Linked DNA regions of Homo sapiens. The main gene of each other region encodes a partner of the protein of the gene in region 2 in a complex. Each region holds a gene or a part of one and is shown on either strand. Other genes may lie near its edges.

The links. Proteins that work in one complex are often made in the same cells at the same time.
Region 1: the proteins of FMN2 (region 2) and SPIRE1 are in contact, whole or in part, in a crystal structure (PDB 2YLE), measured with the Homo sapiens proteins. Residues at the interface, in NP_064450.3 of Homo sapiens: Ser1702, Leu1703, Lys1705, Ile1706, Lys1707, Pro1708, Arg1709, His1710, Gly1713, Ile1714, Lys1715, Lys1717, Ile1718, Lys1721, Thr1722; in NP_001122098.1 of Homo sapiens: Gln51, Pro52, Ile53, Asn54, Glu127, Ile131, Tyr134, Lys135, Asp138, Leu141, Lys142, Glu143, Asn144, Glu145, Glu146, Arg147, Glu148, Glu154, Ile157, Asp158, Ala161, Asn162, Thr163, Val164, Glu165.

Annotation. Positions count from the first base shown.
Region 1 is NC_000018.10:12,452,100-12,459,125, forward strand, and holds part of SPIRE1 (protein spire homolog 1), read right to left. Parts: intron 2,385-7,026; coding exon 2,247-2,384; intron 1,040-2,246; coding exon 969-1,039; intron 414-968; coding exon 386-413; intron 345-385; exon of another isoform or gene 293-344; coding exon 156-292; intron 1-155.
Region 2 is NC_000001.11:240,094,865-240,101,890, reverse strand, and holds part of FMN2 (formin-2), read right to left. Parts: intron 1-7,026. UniProt on the Homo sapiens protein: Actin-binding protein that is involved in actin cytoskeleton assembly and reorganization. Acts as an actin nucleation factor and promotes assembly of actin filaments together with SPIRE1 and SPIRE2.

The DNA of each region.
Region 1 (7,026 bases), on a different chromosome or scaffold from region 2:
GAAGTTTTGGAGATTTGTGTGTAAAACTGTATTAAAACCAACCAACAAACCAATAAAAACCCCTCGAGCCAAAACCCTAACACTCTACCACAGTCCTCAAGAGTAGAACTCTTCTTCTGCAAAGGATGGTTTGACAACCCAGGCCCCTTGCTCACCTGGCAATGCTCCGAAGTGGCCGATGATGGGCAGTGGAGGGTTTTTCTGACCTCATACTACTTTCCCCTCTTTGCAGAGCAGAAGGTCCCAATGAAAAGATAGGAAGAGTGGAGTATGGTTTGGAGGGCAGCCGCATCTATTATCCCAAATAAAACTGGCAATGAGCAGTACCGTTAAAGAGGCAGTCACTAAAAGGAACACAAGTATAAATGAACCAAGCTTAGCTTACCTTTTTGCAACACTGTGAGCACACCGGCCTGTAAACAAAATCATAAATGTTATTTGGCATGATACCAGGGGACGCAACTGGGAGTTAGAGAAGCCTATGGCAGTACAGTTGTAAGTTTCCACAATAAACTGCATAACTCTCCCTTCTTCTATTAGAATGTAACAAATTGACACACTGAATTGCCAAAAAGATAATCTACAGAACTTAACTCTTACACTGTCTCCTATAAAAGGATCAACTTACATGTGTTTGGAATTTTCTTATTTGTCTATCCAGGGATCACATGATAATCACATCTTATTTTTTTTCTGTTCAAACATGACATATTATTAGAATGATCTTAGTTATGTAAAAGAAGTAACATACAGAGAAACATTTTCTAGGTTCAATATCAAATAAATATTTGGCTCACTCTCTTAAGAAATCAATATTCCTAACCTACAAGGATAGCACAAGGTAACGTAACAGAGTGAGTCATTTCTAATTTTATTCCTGTTTAGAAAGATGGTGAAATAAGGAAGATAATTGGTATTTCTCTTACGACTGTTAAATTTATCTTTTCATCAATTACAAAATACCTTACCTCTTACAGAACTGACAGGTATAAGACCAAGTGAAGAAGGAAAACCTCCTGGTTCGGCAACAAAAGCAGAGCTAAAAAATACAAATTTAAGAGGAAAAAAAACATTGCCAACAGCAAATTTCCTAATATCCATGTTTGAATATGCTTTACATCTATATATAGGGGAAGCTGAACAGACAAGAGGAGGAAGACAATTCAGAAATCCTGTTTATAACAGCTGGCTCTGTGATGCTGATAATGTAGCTCTGTATTTAATTATAATTCTATTTTAAAAGGTAATAAAAGGCCACAGCTCTTAAGTGTCTCCTCATCATGGAAGGAATCTGCAGAAGGTTCTGAAAAACCCTCCTCTGTTTCTCAGATACATTTTTTTTTTTTTTTTATGAGATGGAGTCTCACTGTTTCGCCTAGGCTGGAGTGCAATGGCATGATCTTGGCTCACTGCAAGCTCCGCCTCCTGGGTTCACGCCATTCTCCTGCCTCAGCCTCCTGAGTAGCTGGGACTACAGGCACCTGCTACCAGGCCTGGCTAATTTTTTGGTATCTTTAGTAGAGATGGGGTTTCACTGTGTTAGCCAGGATGGTCTCGATCTCCTGACCTTGTGATCCGCCTGCCTAGGCCGCCCAAAGTGCTGGGATTACAGGCGTGAGCCACTGCACCCGGCCTTCTCAGATACATTTTCTTTACAGATCCTTTAAAAGTGTAATGACTAAATGCACACATGGCTTTTTTATTGAGACGGAGTCTCACTATGTCACCAGGCTGGAGTGCAGTGGCGCAATCTCAGCTCACTGCAACCTCCACCTCCTGGGTTCAAGCGATTCTCCCACCTCAGCCTCCCGAGTAGCTGGGATTACAGGCACGCACCACCATGCCCAGCTAATTTTTGCATTTTTAGTAGAGACAGGGTTTCACCATGTTGGCCAGGATGGTCTTGATATCCCAACCTCGTGATCTGCCCGCCTCAGCTTCCCGAAGTGCTGGGATTACAAGCATGAGCCACCATGCCTGGCCACATGCATGGTTTTAGGAAGACATATCGATATTTGTTATGGTTGCTTGAAAACCTTCCAGTTTTGATTTCTAAGGCAGAAACAAAAATGCCCCCTCTTGTGAACGAGACAGCACATGTACTGTCTACTAGGATATGAACATCACACATCCCAAATCCCCTCAAAGTCTGTGCCACCTGGCTAGCAGATAACTCTCCCAGGAGACTATGCATGGGACTGGCCATCCTTCTACTCTTCTGATCAATCAACTTTAAACAGCACTACCTTTCCTTTTTTCAAGGCGGTGTAGATGTCTTTATACTGTTGGTATTTTTCCAGCTCTGCCTTCACCAGGACCTGGCGAATATGCATCACTTCTTCCACAGTAAGAGCGAGGCATTCCACTGGGTAGCAGAATTCCTCCTGAAATTCAAAATGTCACGTGAATAAGAGATTCCTACCCCCTGTTCTGGAAGTGCAAAATTTCCCTTCAGATCAGACCCCTGATTAGTAGCTTCAGAGAAGAGAACAGGTTTCCCAATGACCACTGGGGCAGAGCTGGCTCCCTCTGGGGACCACATCATTTCCAATTACACTAAGACTAAAGATGGCAGAAAACATGTGGGGACCAAGTGATCTACTGAAATTTCCAATAAATGAAAGTTCCTCACGTTTGCTCAGGTATTTTGACTCAAGTAACTCTATTCCGTTAAGCAGGGCTATATTGAAATATTTCAAGCAGGGCTTGAAATCTTGAAAAAAATTTTATTCTAAACCAATTTTGTGTCAGTTGTCTTCTACACCTATGAAAAAGACATTACTTAGTGTTGTGTTGTACATTATATACCAATAGATAAAAAGCAAATCTACAGTGGTCCTTTTTTTTTTTTTCCACAACAGGGTCTCATTCTGTCACCCAGGCTGGAGGGCAGTGATGCGATCATGGGTCACTGCAGCCTTGACTTCCTGGGCTCAAGTGATCCTCCCACCTCAGCCTCCCAAGTAGCTGGGACTACAGGTGCATGCCACCATGCCCAGCTAATTTTTTTGTATTTTTTGCAGAGATGGGGTTTCACCATGTTGCCCAGGCTGGTCTTGAACTCCTGGGCTCAAGTGATCTGCCCACTTCGGCCTCCCAAAGTGCTGGGATTACAGGCGTGAGCCACCATGCCTGGCCTGGCCCTGTTTTTAAAACTCATTTGTGGTACCCAGAATAGCCAAAAGAAGATGGTTAGTAATTTTTACTGACAAGCATTATTTAGTGATCAGTTACATCAGCACACCTTTACAAATCCTAATGGTACGAGTGGAACTGGAACATGAAACTACTGGAGCATTTATATCCAAAAGGCAGTCTCTCCAGGCTGCCCCACAGTTCTCTAGATTTGTTGTTACTTTCAACAAATGCTAAATGTATAGTCAGCAATGGAAAGACTAGAGAAATGTAAAAGATTTCATAATAAATATTTATGTTGGCTGTCTTGTGTTAATGGTTTCCCTACAAGCAGCTGCGGAAGATGTTGATGTAACTGATCTCATTGAATAAGAGCCTCACACCCATCCGCTCCCCATCCGGCCCCGCACTTGATTGGTGGATCTCAGAGAAAGACAGAACAGTCTTGTGCATTCGGACCCTGCCAGGCTGCAAGGGGCCATTGTGGTGCAGTGACACTGAAACTGAATGTTCTCAGCACAAACACATTATAATTCACTCCCACACACACACAACAGCATCGCTCACAGGCACTCAGGAATCCAACACGCCAGTGAGAAAGCACATGACTATGAATGCAGTCAGTTTATGGAGTTTTAACAATCAGTTCTGTCTTTCAATCAGAGAAAAACAAAAATCAATCTAGGTTGCAAACTTGTCAAACATTAGCATTTTACTTAAAAAAGTAGTCTGAAGAACTACTGCTTCTTACTAAAAATCAATGCAAAACCATCTCTGTTCAAGCTAACTTAAGGAAGATTACATTTGCTTAAAAATGCTTTGGGAAAAATCCTGCATTTGAATTTTTAACATGAGAAGCTTATTAGTATAAGAGGACAGGGGGATGAGTTTACTCAGAAAGATTATATCATTTGCTCTAAAATGCCTAAAATACGCATTTAAAAAATTAACGATCACAGTTTTCTCTTTCAACAGGAACTACTTTCAGAGATGACAGAATTAAATCAGCGTGCCTGATACCTACTCTGTTTTGCTCCATCCTCAGAAAAAGAGTAGTGTTAGGTGGGAACAATAAACGGCCTTTTTGAGGGTTAGGCCATTAAAACTGTGCACTAAGTAAGTAGTGTTGGCTGAATACATCCGAATGATGGCATTTCTCAGCTTTTAATGTATTTCAGAAGTTTTGCTCTTATTTTTATTCATCAGTGATGAGTATAAGTAGGGTATGCCTTCTGATGGCTAACGATATGACAAAATGGCTATGCTGCAACAAAATAATGTGGGAATCTAGCACATAACCAGGGAAACACTACTAGATTTATTACGTAGCAAATAACCAGATAGCCAGATTTGTTATTGTTTGTGCTAGCAAGACAGCAGATGGTACCAACTTAACTGACTTTATGATGTGGATAACTGGGCTGTAAACCCTTCAGGCAGATGGTGATTTTTTTCATTTGTAGGGATACGCTAGCATGGCACAACAGACCTGGCAGCTTGCACCTCCCTGTCTTCAGTCTTGAGTCACAAATGGGCTTAGTAAAGCATATTTTCAACTCACTGCTTTGACCCACATGAAAATCCAGTACTTCATGGGATATAATCATTTTTCTTTCGTTTTGAGACAAGGTCTCGCTCTGTCACCCAGGCTGGAGCACAGTGGCATGATCTTGGCTCACCGCAACATCTGCCTCCCGGGTTCAAGTGATTCTTGTGCCTCAGCCCCCTGAGTAGCTGGGATTACAGGTGTGCACCACCACACCTAGCTAATTTTTGTGTAGAGATGGGGGTTCGCCATGTTGGCCAGGCTGGTCTCGAACTCCTGTCCTCAAGTGATCTGCCAGCCTCAGCCTCTCAAAGTGCTGGGATCACAGGCATGAGCAACCGCGCCTGGCCATCATGAGATATAATTTAAAAATAGTAGATTTTTGTTTGCTTTCTTGTTCTTTTTTAAAAATTTTCAAGCAGATTACCCTTTAGTGAAATAATTTCCATCCAGTCAAATGCTAATGTTTTAATTTTGGAGACTTCCCAAGGACAACAAAACTTTAATGCAACATAAAAGAAAATGATAAATAGTTACTAAAATAGTTTTAATTATTTTTTTCAGTTTACAAAAATATTAATTCGACATCTCCAAAGCCAAATTAAACTTCCACAGATCTCGCAGAGCTATTAGCACTCTGGAATGTGGAGGGCACTCAAGGCCCCAGCTAGAGCGGGAGCCCTTCCCCACCACGGCACTGCCTGGGGCTCCCACTGCATGTGTTCGGCCCGTTTGAGTGGCCAGATGTGGCCGGGTAAAGAACCACACTAGCGCACCTCTAGTTCCCTTGCTTGCTCATGTGTCAATGGGACTCCCAGATTCAGGAAAGGGAAGCTAAATCTTAGAGCGCTTTAATGAAGACAACAATGTGCTATAAGACTTTAAACTTACTTCTATGCATGTCACTAAAATTGTTGAGTTTTTTTTTTTTGATGATTATTCTGGCTATATTTTACCATTCAAGAGGGGTCAGTTAGGCAGCACGGAGATTAGACAGCATAATGTAAAATTTTGGTTATTGTGCCACAGAGAGAAATGGGAATAGTCACCTTTCTTTTCTTTTTTCTTTTTTTTTTTTTTTTGAGATGGAGTCTCGCTCTTTCGCCCAGGCTGGAGTGCAGTGGTGCGATCTCAGCTCACTGCAAGCTCCACCTCCAGGGTTCACGCCATTCTCCTGCCTCAGCCTCCTGAGTAGCTGGGACGACAGGCGCCCGCCACTGAGCCCAGCTAATTTTTTGTATTTTTAGTAGAGACGGGGTTTCACTGTGTTAGCCAGGATGGTCTCGATCTCCTGACCTCATGATCCACCCGCCTCGGCCTCCCAAAGTGCTGGGATTACAGGCGTGAGCCACTGTGCCTGGCTGGGAACAGTCATCTTTTATACAGTGTTCATGATTAGTAAAAACTTCATAAATTAACCAGTATTTGAAAATTACCCAAAATAACCATTGCTTTTTGAGTTTTTAATAAACCAAAGAGAGGCAAATTTAAATAAAAACAGCAACTATTAAGTTTACTCTTCTTAATCAACTACAAAACTCAAAGTGAAGGCCAGGCGCAGTGGCTCACGCCTGTAATCCCAGCACTTTGGGAGGCCGAGGTGGGCGGATCACGAGGTCAGGAGATGGAGACCATCCTGGCTAACATGGTGAAACCCCGTCTCTACTAAAAATACAAAAAAAAATTAGCCGGGCGTGGTGGCAGATGCCTGGAGTCCCAGCTACTCGGGAGGCTAAGGCAGGAGAATGGCGTGAACCCAGGAGGCGGAGCTTGCAGTGAGCCGATATCGCGTCACTGCACTCCAGCCTGAGTGACAGAGAGAGACTCCATCTCAAAAAAAACAAAAACAAACAAACAAAACTCAAAGTGAATCCTTTCTTTGCCTAAAGTGGTATATGGCCTTAGTGTTCAGATATCTCTGTTTGGGGAGAATTGATAATCAAATGCCAGCAGGTCTTCAGTAGAGGCAGGAGTGACAGGAGTTAAAAAGCCACCGTGGCACCTGACCACGTGCTGCCCAAGAGCACATCTAAAACGGGAAAAAGGACAGAGGTTTTTCCTGCATTTCATGACAAAGATCAGAGAAAGGAATGTTTTGTGTCTTATTTACATTGAGTCTCCTTTCCATATCAAGATGACTAAGAAAGAGTAACAAAGAAACCAGCTGCGGGGTCATCTGTCAAGGACAAGGTTAGTAAATCCAAGGCTTTAGAGAGCCAGGCCCTGCCTACTGTAGCACAAAGGCTGCTCTGAGCACCTGCTACGTGGTGGCAGAAGAGGCTTCAATATGGTCGTAGAGCTTTTTATTTCACGTAGAATTGTGAAGGTTCAAATAATGATATATT
Region 2 (7,026 bases):
TATATTCTAAATCTTCGAGCCATACATTATATAACATAGCTTTCCATTTCATACATTTTCATAACACACGATCAACCATCATACATAATCATTATATCAGTGTTCAAAAACACAAGGCCCTATCGAGACCAGCCTGGGTAACATAGTGAGACCCTGTCTCTCCAAAAAAAAAAAAAAAAAATTAGCCAGGCATAGTGGCTCACGCCTGTGGTCCCAGCTATTCTGGAAGCTGAGGTGCTGAGGTGGGAGGATTGCTTGGGACCAGGAGTTTGAGGCTGCAGTGAGCCATGAGCACACCACTGCGCTCCCGCTTGGGTGGCAGAGCATGACCCTGTCTCAAACACACACACACACAACACAGACACACAGGCACACACACACATACACACACACACACACGGTCCTATTGTCAGATAATGACAGTCTAACCAATGCAAATCTCCTTCAGCATGAATCAAAAATTGATCAAAACTATCAAAGTCAAAACATCACCACTCTCACCATCAATTACTCCGTGGTATAAACGGGTCTTCCGGCATAGGAATTTTCTTCAGCTCTACCAATAAAGGAAAGCTCTAAATACACAGAGCATCCCTATTAGGGAGAAAAGGTACCTGCTGGAATCACCATATCTATAGAACCACAGTGCTGAAATTGACTTGAAGGAAGACGCTTCCCAGCAAGATTGCATTCACTCTTCCAATCTGGGAAGCCAGGGTATTAACAAGAGGCAAGAAATGATTGCCTTGTGCCCTAATAGGAAGCTGGTGGTAAAACGGAAAAGGGAAATAGATTGTTCTCAGCCTGCACTCTTCCCATAGTGCTGACACTAGCTTACTGAAACACATTCTTTCCCCTCCTGCGTACCTAAAACAACCATTTAAATGACACAGAATTTCTTCCTGTATGTGTCCACTCTATCACCAGGTACTACAACAAAGAACCCTTCTGCATGAAGTACAAAAAAAGACTCAACTGAGTAGTGCCTAAGCCTTTTTAAGCATAATTTTGAAACATAATATAGGCTTGATTTTCTCAAGAAAGTATTCCATTCCTCCTGAAAACAATAGGACTGTTTTCAGTCCATTGCAGCTCTAGGGTAACAGATAATAAAGCTTCCAGTGGGTTCCTGGTAGGTTGGAGCCTGACTGGATCACAGAATAGAGGCAGTAATTTTCCTATCCAATCAACACTTCCAAGTACATCTTTACAAAGGAAGAAGACATAAATTCTTCCCTCCTTCTCACCCATAGTGGAGCAGTAGGTATCAAAAGGATAATAAATCTCTAGTGTGGTTAGCATCTTATTATAGCATCCAGAAATAATTGTTACTCATTCTTAGAATTTTGATGTTATGACTACCTTGCTTTACTACCATTCCGAACTGACTGAGGTCATATTTTCCATATATTTTAAGATAAAAAAGCCTTAGAAAGTTTCTACTGTCACTAAAATGATATCTAATAACTATCAAGTCACAGGCAGTACATTTTTGTTTCTTCCTAATGGTTCCTTAATGCTAACTTTTATTAGCATTAGGTTAGTACTTAGAATACAAAACAGGAATGAACAGAGGAATACAATTTTCTCTATTCCCTTTACCTCTTCTTTCATTACAATAACATTTATATTTGGAAGGTCAGTTGCTGTAATGTCATTACTATTTTAACATTAACCTGCAGAAACAAGAATAGCTATTCTTCTATCAACATAAGTTCTATAAAGTATCATTGATTCAATCACACCTCATTGAAAATAATTAATTTTGACTGCCCAGAAAGGTTAGCAATTTTCCAGCTTCAATTCAACTAGTTTTAATTGCCAGTAGGAAGCCTGGATACTCAACTTGTCTATATCACTGCCAAAAATGGTGAATGAGCAAGTATTCATCAAGACCTCAGTACAGTCGGTGCTTTACACATATTGACAGGCACAGAGCAAGGCACGGAAGAGATATCTGTGGACAGATTAGTAGGAGAGGAGATGATGGATGGATGGAATCGGGTGAACAGGCAAGGAGGAAGGAAAGGCAGAGGGTGGCAAGAAAGAAGACCAGAAGAATCCCTAAATCCAAGAAGCATATATAATATGATCTAGACAGTAAAGTACAGAGAAAGTGAGATGACAGCCAGTAAGGTCTGGCTGGAAAAGATACAAAGAGGAAACGGAATTCAATCAGCACTTTTCAAATGCTAAAGCAAAAGAGACGAATCATGTATTCCAAGAGGGTAAAGCTGCAAGACAAAGGCACAAAGTCGGGAAAATGAAATGCATGTTCATAAAACAGTGTAAAGTAGAGCATTTATGAAGGAGACCGTGGGAAGGTAAAGCTGCAAAGTCAGGGGTTTGCAGCCAGATGCTGTGCAGAGCAGAAACACTGAGGGTGTCAGCTACCGCCTCCTCTTCCCACCCCTTCTTTGGAAAGCAGCACCCTCCCCCAAATCTTACAGCCACACCCCATCATATGCTTTTCTTATCCAACCCCCCACCACAGAATATCTGATAAGTGACAAAATGCTTACAATTCCAGAAAAAAAAAAGAAAAAATAATACATAAACAATTTGCAAAAAAAAACAAAACAAAACAAAACTGGGGCTCAACTAGTATCTGGTCAGTTCATATCCTGCTAAGTTTTGTATACAATTTCAGGGTTGTTTTAACAAATTTGGCTCTGATCACTTTGAACAATGACTTTTTTTTTAAGATAATAAATCCAGTCAGGAGAGCAAATAGCCCCAGTTAAGTGCCTCTCATGTACCAGGCAGAATTGTAGGGGCTTTATGTATGCTATTTCATTTCATCTTAATAGTATTAATTTGAAATTATTCTTCTACCTTCATAGATATGAGGAAAAATTACTGGAGACTCACTTAGCTAAACAGCAAAACTAGGATTGCAAATATACCTAGAATAAACGTAGTTAGAATAACTACTGCTACCTTCATCCAACTGTATATTTTCTGTATCTTTTCAGAAGAATCAGAAGGAAAAGCACTAAAAGTACCTGCTCCATTTCAAATACGCATGGCTTATATCCAAACGCCTAAAGCTCTTAAAACTAGGCCCATCCTCAACTCATAAAGCAGTCATTAAAACCCATCCCTGAAGCTACTGGTGCACTTGACTTCAATCCAAACCACAGGCCTAAAGAAACCATGAGAAAGGATGTTTCAGACCCATCTAAAATGATTGAAGATCAGTGTTCTGGTCCCCGCTTACATCGCCAAATTCTTCTCTGATATATGGAACCCAGTAAGGCAGTATTTAGGGGAAAGCATAGCATTCATATAAACCCCTTTCCTTTTATAATAAGACATTTTATACGTATCAGGCAGATTCTGACCTTCATTCGTCAGACATTAACTGGACATCTATACTCTGTCAGGGGCTCTGCTGGAAATCAAACTACTCCTGGCCTTAAAAAAATCCAATGTAGCAATTTACCAAGCCGTATGAGAAAATGTGTACTCCTAGAGTGGGTTCTTCCCTCTACTGATATAAAAATCAAGATAGGCCTCCTAGCACTTGGGGAGGCCAAGGCAGATAGAACACCTGAGGTCAGGAGTTCAAGACCAGCCTGGCCTACATGGTGAAATCCTGTCTCTACTAAAAATACAAAAATTAGCTGGGTGTGGTCATGGGCGCCTATAATCCCAGCTACTCTGGAAGCTGAGGCAGGAGAATTGCTTGAACCCAGTGGGCGGAGGTTGCAGTGAGCCAAGATCACGCCACTTCATTCCAGCCTTGGCGACAAGAGTGAAATCTGTCTCCAAAAAAAAAAAAAAAAAAAAATTCAAGATAACCTTTAGAAAGGCCAAAATCAGAGTTGCACAATCCAAGTTCTAGAGCCTATGCACTTTATTAATTAGCTAGTCCTCCAAAAGCTCAATGATCTACTTGGTTTCATCTTATACATATTAACAACAGATTTGGTTTTCTAAGGACATATCCTGGATGGGCCACTTACTAGCTTAATGCCCTTAGACAAGAAGTTACTTTACTGTCTGAGCCTGGGTTTTTTCATTCGAAAAATGAGGATAAACAGCTACACCTCAAGACTGTTGTTAAGGATTACAGATAGTTATGTAATGCACCAACAGAGTCTGGCACTTAGAAGTACAATAAGTGTAACCAATATCATAATTACAGGAATTGTAAGCCAATTGCAAATTGATCAGAAAAGTCAAATTACAAAAAAATTGAGGGACAGGAGCAAAGAGACTAAAGACAGCTATAGCCGGGCGCGGTGGCTCACGCCTGTAATCCCAGCACTTTGGGCGGCCGAGGCGGGCGGATCACGAGGTCAGGAGATCAAGACCATCCTGGCTAACACGGTGAAACCCCGTCTGTACTAAAAATACAAAAAATTAGCTGGGCATGGTGGTGGGCGCCTGTAGTCCCAGCTACTCAGGAGGCTGAGGCAGGAGAATGGCGTGAACTCAGGAGGCGGAGCTTGCAGTGAGCAGAAGTCGTGCCACTGCACTCCAGCCTGGGCAACAGAGCGAGACTCTGTCTCAAAAAAAAAAAAAAAAGGCAGCTATAACAATAAATAGCTGGCAGCAAGAAAACAATCAAGAAACTACACAGACACAAAAACTCAGAAACTACAGACTGAAGCCAACAGCCCACACACTTCAATAGCTGTTGAGGACATCACTAATGTTTTTATAAGATGTAACAATGATGTGCCTGAAGATGACATTAAGCCCTTTAAAACAGATTAAACTTTTATTCCATGTGTTTAAAAAAAAAGATAAGCACATAATTGACTTGGGAAAGATTCCTATCAAAAGCGATTTAGCATCACAAATTTAACACGTTGGATATCTAAACTTTAATTAACTGCAAAACTCCAGTACCAAGCTTCTGTTATACTTAATATGTAAAGGAACCTCCCGAATTTCAGACGCCATTTTTTCTACTAAACACTGAAAAAGATGTATTTCAAACACATTAATTATGAAATACTTAAATGCAATGGCCTAAGGCATCATCAGTTTCTTAATAGCTAAAACAAGATAAAGTTTGGTCTCCCTCATTGCTAAATGTTTTTAGATCTACCAAAGAGACACAGACATGTGCCATAGAAATCCCTTTTCACTTGTATTTTCTCCCTACATTTGGAAGGCGGTAAAAAGCGAAAAACATCTGTTTCTTCCTGTAATGCTGACAACCCTCATTCTATGGTTTAAAAATAAAAGATGCTTATGGAAGCTTATAGATATAATGATCACCTGCTTCAAAGGCAGCTGGCAATTAATTGATCCAAATACATGCAAAATTAAGGCCAAAAAGAAATTTCCCTAAGGACAATGCCAGTGTTCCCCAAGCCTCTGGTAATTTCCAAGACACCCGTAAAAAAATAGCAGAGGAGAGTAAAGAAGCAAACGTAGTGGCAGATGACATGAAGAGTTGACAGCTGAGACACAAGGGCCTGTGTCAATCTGGATTCATTTGACCACCATAAGAACAGTTTCCATGAGAGCTGCTTAGAGAAAATCTGGTTCACTCTGGCCAACAATCACCCTTCATCCAGCTCAAGGAAGGCCAGATGTTCAACCATTAAAGGAGGACACCTTATTAAAAACAGGAACTGGAAAATCTAATTAAAGAAAGGCCCTAAATCTGATCACATTTTTTATAAACAGTTTTTACTCTCTATATGGCCTTAAAACATTGTATATCCAAACAGAAATAATAATGACATTAGACTTGATTCATTGACTCAGTTTCTATTTCTGGATCTGCCTCTGAATGAATCACAGTGTGACCTTGAGAAAGTTATTTCACCTCTTTCTCTATCTACATTTTCCCACCAGTTACAAAGTTAGGTAAAACCTACTGATCCTCTTTTCCTGAACAATGCTGAGTGAATGACATAAACATACGGAAGCTGCTACACAAAAATATATTTGCTGATTACCAACCAGCTGTATCCAACCATCAAATACAAAATAGGTGATGTCCTTATAAAAACGACTAGCTCTGCAATTTTACTTTGCACAATTTAAAAAACAAATCACCTGGAGAGGTCAACAAAACCCAGGTGGTTCCTATACAGGACTCTTTTAAGAGTCCCAAATTTCAAATTTGGGAATACTTAGCAAATTAAACTAAAATGCAAGTTCCAAGAAGACACTTGTTTTTTTAAAGGAAAACAAACATTCAACCTATTTAGGGTCTTGTGATCTTCCAGGACTCTGTTCAATCCTCCTCTCTCAAGTCCTCTTCCCTCACCCCTTGCCACCAAGCAGATAAGCCACTGCATCCGTGATGTTCCCAGCAGTGATTTGCATGTCTATATCTATACAGATATTTCTGTGCACTGCACTTATGTCATGTCTCCTCCTCACTAGTCAGCGAGCCTTAGAAAGGCAAAATCATGATTTAATGGTCTATGTATCACCTACATCTAGAATACTGCCTAGCACAGTGTGCTACTATTTAGAATACTGCCTAGCACAATGTGGCTGCTCAATGTGTGTGTGTGTGTGTGTGTGTGTATGCACATATATGCTTACAAATGTATATACATATATATATTTGCTAAATGAATGAAATAAATAAATTTCCAAAGTCTTATGCTAGTAGGAATAGCTATCATTAATATTAATGATTGATAATCATTATGGTGAATTATTTTCACTTTTCAAAAACTATATACGTGAATGTCACTTAGATAAAGAGAAAATATGTGATTTCTTACCAACATTAAATTCACAAAAATTAATGCAAAAACTTTCCAATCTTCTTCTATCAAAAGTGATCTTTCTTTTTTATTTGTTTTGCATTTTGTTTTTGTTTTTTTACAATTTATCTAGTGGGTATAAAACTACAAACATTCTTTTTAACAATCTACACAATAAAGAGAAGGTGGAAAAGAAGAAAAATAAGAGTATGTGAAATGAATGGAAGAAGCTACTTTTAAGGGTAAGACCCTATAAGGGCAAAATAAAAGGTGGCCCACAGATGAAAATTAAAATGTGGTCAATAAAAGTAGCTACCCCAATATTACCAGCATTTAG